2 linked regions of the Homo sapiens genome follow. The protein of the gene in region 1 interacts with the protein of each later gene in a pairwise test. Each region holds a gene or a part of one and is shown in the gene's direction. Other genes may lie near its edges. The genes, in order: POMP and ECT2.

Region 1 (3,827 bases):
CCTATAAGAAAGAGTAGAACAAATAATGTAATTATGAAATTGAAGTTCAAATTAGATGAGAAAAATAAAAAAATTCCTCATCGATTTAAGTGAATTCAGGTTTCAGGTGCAGAAGTTGACAGCCCAGAGTACACTTATAAGTATGTGAGTATGATTATAAAAGCACAGTTGATCATCTTTGAGAACTAATGGGAGAAATGAAAATTGGTTATAGATGGATACATATTCCACTTTTGTATAAAGGATCTAACTAAAAAATAAGATTGTCTGTGGTAACATTGATCCCTGAAACTGTTTCTTAAGTGGACTATTGAGTGAGCTGTGAGCATTTAATAGGGTAAGCAGTGATCATCAGCATCTGAATGAACTCAGCAAATTAATTTTAGTTCACTCTTTTACTCAGTTGCCAAATGGGTCAGTCAAGGGATCAAATTATCTGACAAGGGATAAGATTGAGGATTACATGGTGGATTATTAACCGAGTGAAAGTAGTGTAGGGTAAAGTATATGAGGTTGGTAACTGTACCCAGAGAACGGTGATTAGGGAATAGTCAATTTGGAGGGAATATTTTGATAGGGCTTTTTGGCCTCTGTCTACATCTTAGGTAGTCAGGTGGACACATAGGAAGGATAAGTATTTTTCAAGGACTTGTGGGCAACCAAAGAAAGAATGTATATTAGGTTTTTGGAAAAAAGGTTGAGAAGGATAGTTCATTCTGTTGAATAATTGAACTATATCATGGTGATAAAATAGACCAAAGTCTAGACCAAAATTTAAGGAAAACATTTATAGAGGTGAGTGTGAAGTTCTGCGTTTGGATTCAAAAAATGAATTCTACACCTTTGGGCAGGGTAAAGTGACTTGCTCTGTAAAACTTGACTATTTTAATTGACTGTATACTCACTATAAGCCAGCAGATTACGTTAGTTACTAAAAAGAAAGGTTAATGCAGTCTTGGGCTTTGTTAATAAGATGGGGCTCAAATCAAGGGAGATTATATTATTTTCCTGTGTATTAGTCTGGCTATTAGATTTGGAATATTGGTTTAGTTCTAAGCAATACATATTAAGAGAAACTGACAAATCTGAGTGAGACTAGGTGGAACTGTGAAGAATCTAAAAACTTCAGAGATCTTTTTGAGACTTACATACATCTACTGCATCTCTTCTTCTTTAATCATTTAGCCAGCTAATGGCAGTCTCACTCTTTATGTGACTCTTACTGTCTATTATAAATCCTTCAGCATGGATTGTGTAGTTGAACTATGTGGGCACCCCACTTTGCTAAGTAAACTTGGGGCATATTGCTTAATTTTCTTTAAGCCTTAGTCTTCTCATCTGGAGTTAGTAATAGCCCATCCTTGGCATATTGCTGGCCTCTAGTAGCTCTGCATGATTGGGAGCTTCAGTGGTGATAGTGATGGAAGATGGCCATCATCATTTGTACCAGTGGTTCTCAACTAGGGGAGGATCATCCTCCTGCCCCCTACAAGGGAACAGTTGGCAAAGTCTGAGGACATTTTAGGTTGTCACAAGTGGTGCGGTGGGGGATGGGGGGATGTAATATTGGCATCTATGGGGTAGAGGCCAGGGATGCTGCCAAACATCCTACAGTACACAGGACAGCCTGCCACAGTGAAGAATTATCTGGCCCAAGAAATCAGTAGTGCGGAGGGTTGAGATACATACATAATGTCTTCCAAACTGGATTATAATCTCCAAGGTAGGCTGTTCAGTTTTGTTGTGTGTTGCCACAGAGCCTAATTTTGCACACGGTTGCTAACTTACATGTTGATTGATAATTACAGTATTAATATCACATTACAAGATGGCTGTATTCATCAAAATTTACATAAATTGAGTTATTATACATAAAATTACATTTACTGCTGGGTGTGGTGGGGTGTGCCTGTAGTCCCAGCGGCGTGGGAGGCTGAGGCGGGGGATTGCTTGAGCCTGGTAATTCGAGGCTGTAGTGCTCTATAATCGTGCCTGTGAATAGCCACTGCACTCCAGCCACATAGCAAGACCCGTCTCTTAGAATAAAATTGTATTATCATGAGGATAAGCCAATATTTAAAGCAAACCCTTCACTTAGAACTTCAGATCATATACCCATAATAAAATACTGCAGGTTTTCCCTAAGGACCATCTGTCAAAATTTGCTGTGTAAAGCTAAAGTAATTAAAAAGCATTTGGTTAGTCACCTTACTTTCAAACTTCATAGTCATATCCCAAGTAGGTGCTAATCTCTCAATAGATTTTTGTTCAAAATGACCTTTTTGATTACTATTAGAAGACAATGTTATCAAGAGAGTAGCGTGTAATAAAAAATGACAAGAAATGACTTTACCTCATTATAATCACCTTAGCTCAGACAAATCTTTGTAACAGTCTGTTTGCATATTACATTCACTATCCTTAGGAGCCATTTTTGGAAACTGTTTTAGAATCCATGAGTCAAGTCGATTCATTTTGCCTGAAATACATTAAGTTATGGCCAAAGTTCCCTAAATGTAATATCAGTACTTAGTGAAAGTATGATCCAGGAAAAATTGCTGATTAGTACCCAATACAAATTGAATAAACTTTTGAGAGATGTTTGTTTTTCCCCTGAGGCAAGTACCAAAAATAAGTGGAGTTTAAACATAGTTTAATTAACAGGATGATTTAGTGGTCAGATTATTTCTTTTGCTGAATCCTTTTAAATATATGCCTTCATACTTAGAAATTAACTATTTTTGTCAGTGGATGTGACATTTTCTGGATCTCAAATTACACCTTTGCTAGTTTTGCAGTACTTTTAATCAAAAGCGCTAAAATATGATTGTCTTGTAAATCTACTTTTGAATAGGAGACACATTCCTTTACTTTTATAAATTTGGAATTTTGGTAGTAATTTTACTCTGGTAAAAGTACACCTGCATGCTAAATGAAATATAGACATATGTGGTCTAAAATTTGTCAGAAAAAATTAGTAAAAATACTTAGTTTTTATTACAGGTATGGATATTAAAATTCTTCATCTAACTATTGTGTTATATATATGCCACTGCTAACTGTTTTGAAAGCAGAGTATTGAGTGTAATGTTTAAAATTACATTGTCTTTTGTAGTTCCAGCTCAACCAAGATAAAATGAATTTTTCCACACTGAGAAACATTCAGGGTCTATTTGCTCCGCTAAAATTACAGATGGAATTCAAGGCAGTGCAGCAGGTGAGTTGATGGATCTCTGTTGCATATGTGTCGATATCATTCATGAGGAATCTTCTGTTTTCATAACAGCTATTTATACCTTATCTACCTTACAACCTATTCTACTTCCCTCCCCCTTTTTAGGGTATGACCTTGATTTCTACTTCATAGAGGGAAAAAAGAAGTCATTAAATGGAAAACTTCAAATTACAGGCTCAGTGTCTGAAAACTTACCTGCATCTGCTTTCATGTTTTTCTGGGTTTTTTTTTTATGTATTACATTGAATTTGAGATCCCTCTAAGAATATCCAAGTGGAGGTGTCAAGTATACAATTTGTATATAGTTGAATATACCTGTTTCTAAGGAATAAGTACTTGGAAAATGTCCTTCCAATTATGTAAGAACCACCCTCCTACCTGTGCTTTGGATTCTATCCTGTTACATTACTTCAGGAAAATCCCTTTATCAATGATGCCTTCTCAAGCTGATATCTTTAACCCCTCTCTGCTTGCTCTGTCTCAGCAGTAGCATTTGAACCGCTGTTGTCTTTTAAAACAAAAAAAAATTGTATCAATTTCAAATTCCTTTATAGTAACTTGTCTCTCATTGAGTGTGCTTTTGCTTCTTGAA
Region 2 (3,827 bases), on another chromosome or scaffold:
GAAGGTTTGGATTCTCCGGAATTTGAAAATGTATTTGTAGTCACGGACTTTCAGGATTCTGTCTTTAATGACCTCTACAAGGCTGATTGTAGAGTTATTGGACCACCAGTTGTATTAAATTGTTCACAAAAAGGAGAGGTAAGCATATACATTTATTATGACTTTTCAAGTTAAAATTTTTATTAATGAATTTTAATTAGCAAAAAATTTATTTGGAAAAATCTCATTGATTGCTGAGAGCAAAATATTTAGAATAGGAATAATAGTGGCTATTCTAATGTGGTCCTTTAATTCCTCCATTTTAAACTTAGTGGTGAAAAGCTAAGGCCTTTGAAAGTTAAATAATGATAACTGTACATATGCATATACACAGACAAATACATAGTCCTTTTTTTTTTTTTTTTTTTGAGACGGAGTCTTGCTCTGTGCCCAGGCTGGAGTGCAGTGGCACGATCTCAGCTCACTGCAAGCTCCGCCTCCTGGGTTCACGCCATTCTCCTGCCTCAGCCTCCCCAGTAGCTGGGACTACAGGTGCCCGCCACCATGCTCAGCTACTTTGTTGTATTTTTAGTAGAGATGGCGTTTCACCATGTTAGCCAGGATGGTCTTGATCTCCTGACCTCGTGATCCACCCGCTTCGGACTCTCAAAGTTCTGGGATTACAGGCGTGAGCCACTGCGCCTGGCGTATACACTATCAATACCACAATGTCTTAGAGAAGATTACTTGCTTAAACTTGGGTTCCAGAAATTCATACATATACATAAACTTTTATTTTTCTCAACACAGAACAGATACCACGGTTCCATTTTTATCAGTTACTGTATAACTTAAAATTCAAAAATTATTTTAGCTTTTTGTATTTATTTATTTATTTAATAAATAAATACACGATCTCTGCTCACTGCAACCTCTGCTTTCCCGGGTTCAAGCGATTCTACTGCCTCAGCCTCTCAAGTAGCTGGGACTGCAGGTGCATGCCACCACGCCTGGCTAAGTTTTTTCTATTTTTAGTAGAGACAGGATTTCACCATGTTGGCCAGGCTGGTCTCGAACTCTTGACCTCACGTTATCTTCCTGCCTCTGCCTCCCAAAGTGTTGAGATTACAGGCATGAGCCACCGTGCCCCGCTTCTTTTTGTTTTTAAACAGCATTTCAATATGAGTCGTATGAGAGTTAGTCCCTATTTGGTTTTGTTGCTGTCTTGGCATTCTTAAGCTTGCCTTGTTTACTTAAAATTGCTTAGGTCTTTGTACTTCTATTGTTACACATGTTAGTAATAATAAGCACATGTTAACCTTTAATTCTCTTACATTTTGATTTGGAGTGGTTGGTTTCAAAACCCAAATAAACTTTAAAAGGCCAAATTTTGAAAAATAATCTTATATAATGATGAAAATCAAATTTATTCTTTTATTATTTTTAAACCGTTCTCTTTTATACACACACACACACACAGACACACACACACACAACCGTTGGGTAAATTATTTACTGAATATCACCATTTATTAGCTTAAAGATTAGAATTATATTTGGTTTAAGTGTGTGTATTATATTTACTCAGTGTTTATTATAAAATGCCTCTGACCTGTTTTAATGACATTAATTAGAATCATCTATAGTAGTGTATGGAGTCTGAAAACTTTGCTTATAGTCAGTACTTCATGTCTGTCAGAGTGCATTTAATATTTGTTTAATTTGCTGAGAGTAAAGTGTGTTTAGATTATGTATATTGCATATGATTAAGGAATCGGGAAATATTTTTATTGGGAAACTTGCAATCTGTCGTTTTGCTGTTTTTTTGTTGCATATTGAAAAAATGCCAGTAAATCTTTGGATTGGGAAAGTTGAATGGCAAGAGGGGAAATGAAATATATTTAGCTTGAGAAAGTTGTGTTGTATTTTCTACTAAAGAGAAAGCTCACATTTAAAATTGTTGTATCCTTCAGCCTTTGCCATTTTCATGTCGCCCGTTGTATTGTACAAGTATGATGAATCTAGTACTATGCTTTACTGGATTTAGGAAAAAAGAAGAACTAGTAAGTATTACGAAACAAATTCAAAGCGTATTTTTTACAGCAAAATAAATTAAAATTGGCTTTTTTTTCTTTTTAGTATTATGGTTTTATTTTTAAAATATTGAAGGATAACTTATTATGGCTATACCAGATTTTAAATTTTCTGAAGAAACAAATCCTGAAGAGCCTTATAAAGAGACCAGTGTTTTGTCTAGGCTGGCTGATGTGAATTAATAGAAAGATTTCATAGCAATTCTGTTTGACTGTCTTGTTACCATATTGGCTACGTTGGTTATTTAAAGTTTTTGTTTATACATTGCAATTTCTTATTATGCAAGTTCAGCCTGAAAGTATTCTGTTGCCCTATAGAATTCATAGAAAGTTCCTTTTTTATTTTTATTTTATTTTTTTTGAGACAAGTCTTGCTCTGTCACCCAGGCTGGAGTGCAGTGGCGCAATCTCGGCTCACTGCAAACTCCGCTTCCCAGGTTCACACCATTCTCTTGCCTCAGCCTCCCGAGGAGCTGGGACTACAGGCGCCCGCCACCACGCCTGGCTAATTTTTTTTTGTATTTTTAGTAGAGATGGGGTTTCACCGTGTTAGCCAGGATGGTCTTGATCTCCTGACCTCGTGATCCGCTTGCCTCGGCCTCCCAAAGTGCTGGGATTACATGCGTGAGCCACCGCGCCCGGCCAGAAAGTTCTTTCTTTGGTTCACAATACTTTGTTGTTGGAACTGATGGGTATTACTCTGATTTTGTGGGAACAGTCTTGATGTGATAAAACTTGGTATTTTTTTAAAAAAACCAATATATTTACACAGTATGGTATTAAAAAGCAATATATTTAGGCCATAGGAAAGGCGGTTGTTTAACTTACATTTGTGTGAAATCTTTACTAATCCCACCTCTATAATTTTGCCTGTGTTAATAGGCAAACTAATCTTTTTTATACTTACTTTGACATAAAATTTAATAGCTTTATAAAAATCCCGTATGTATTTTATAAATAGAAAGTATTTAGCAAATGCTAAATGTGGGGTAAACATAGTTTAAAATTTTGTTCAAATTAACCATAAAGTCAGTGTTGCTTAATTTTTCTTTTGAGGTCAGGTTGGTGACATTGGTCCATCACATGGGTGGAGTTATTCGAAAAGACTTTAATTCAAAAGTTACACATTTGGTGGCAAATTGTACACAAGGAGAAAAATTCAGGGTATGTAAACTTGGGTATTTTTGTGTATTTCAATACAGCATTATTTTGGCATGGGTTTAATAATAGCAGTCTTTTATCTATTTCTTTCACAATTAAAGAAGAGAAACTCAATTTTTGCTATGAATATATTTAGTAAAAAATTTTAAATCATAAGAGTGGTTAAATTTTCTTTCTTTTCTTTTCTTTTCTTTTTTTTTAAATAGAGATGGGGTGTTGCTCTGTTACCCAGGCTGCTTTCGAACTCCTGGGCTTAAGTGATCCTCCTGCCTTGGCCTCCCAAAGTGTTGAGATTACATACGTGAGCCACCAGGCCTGGCCGAGTGGTTAAGTTTTAAGTAGGCAATGGAACTTGAGTGAGGTGTTGAAAGATGACTAGGATCGTGGGGGTTGGTAGATGAATAACATTGTAGGAATTGTGAAAGTAGGGAATTTACTCTTGTCTAAGTGCCTTTTTTTTTTTTTTTTTTTTTTTTTTGAGACTGAGTCTCTCTCTGTCACCCAGGCTGGAGTGCAGTGGTGCCATCTCGGCTCACTGCAAGCTCCGCCTCCTGGGTTCACGCCATTCTCCTGCCTCAGCCTCCCGAGTAGCTG

What was found.
Region 2: the proteins of POMP (region 1) and ECT2 interact in a two-hybrid assay, tested with the Homo sapiens proteins (one large-scale study listed by BioGRID).

Annotation. Positions count from the first base shown.
Region 1 is NC_000013.11:28,665,358-28,669,184, forward strand, and holds part of POMP (proteasome maturation protein), read left to right. Parts: intron 1-3,115; coding exon 3,116-3,217; intron 3,218-3,827. UniProt on the Homo sapiens protein: Molecular chaperone essential for the assembly of standard proteasomes and immunoproteasomes. Degraded after completion of proteasome maturation. Mediates the association of 20S preproteasome with the endoplasmic reticulum.
Region 2 is NC_000003.12:172,757,028-172,760,854, forward strand, and holds part of ECT2 (protein ECT2), read left to right. Parts: coding exon 1-138; intron 139-1,952; coding exon 1,953-2,042; intron 2,043-3,128; coding exon 3,129-3,236; intron 3,237-3,827. UniProt on the Homo sapiens protein: Guanine nucleotide exchange factor (GEF) that catalyzes the exchange of GDP for GTP. Promotes guanine nucleotide exchange on the Rho family members of small GTPases, like RHOA, RHOC, RAC1 and CDC42.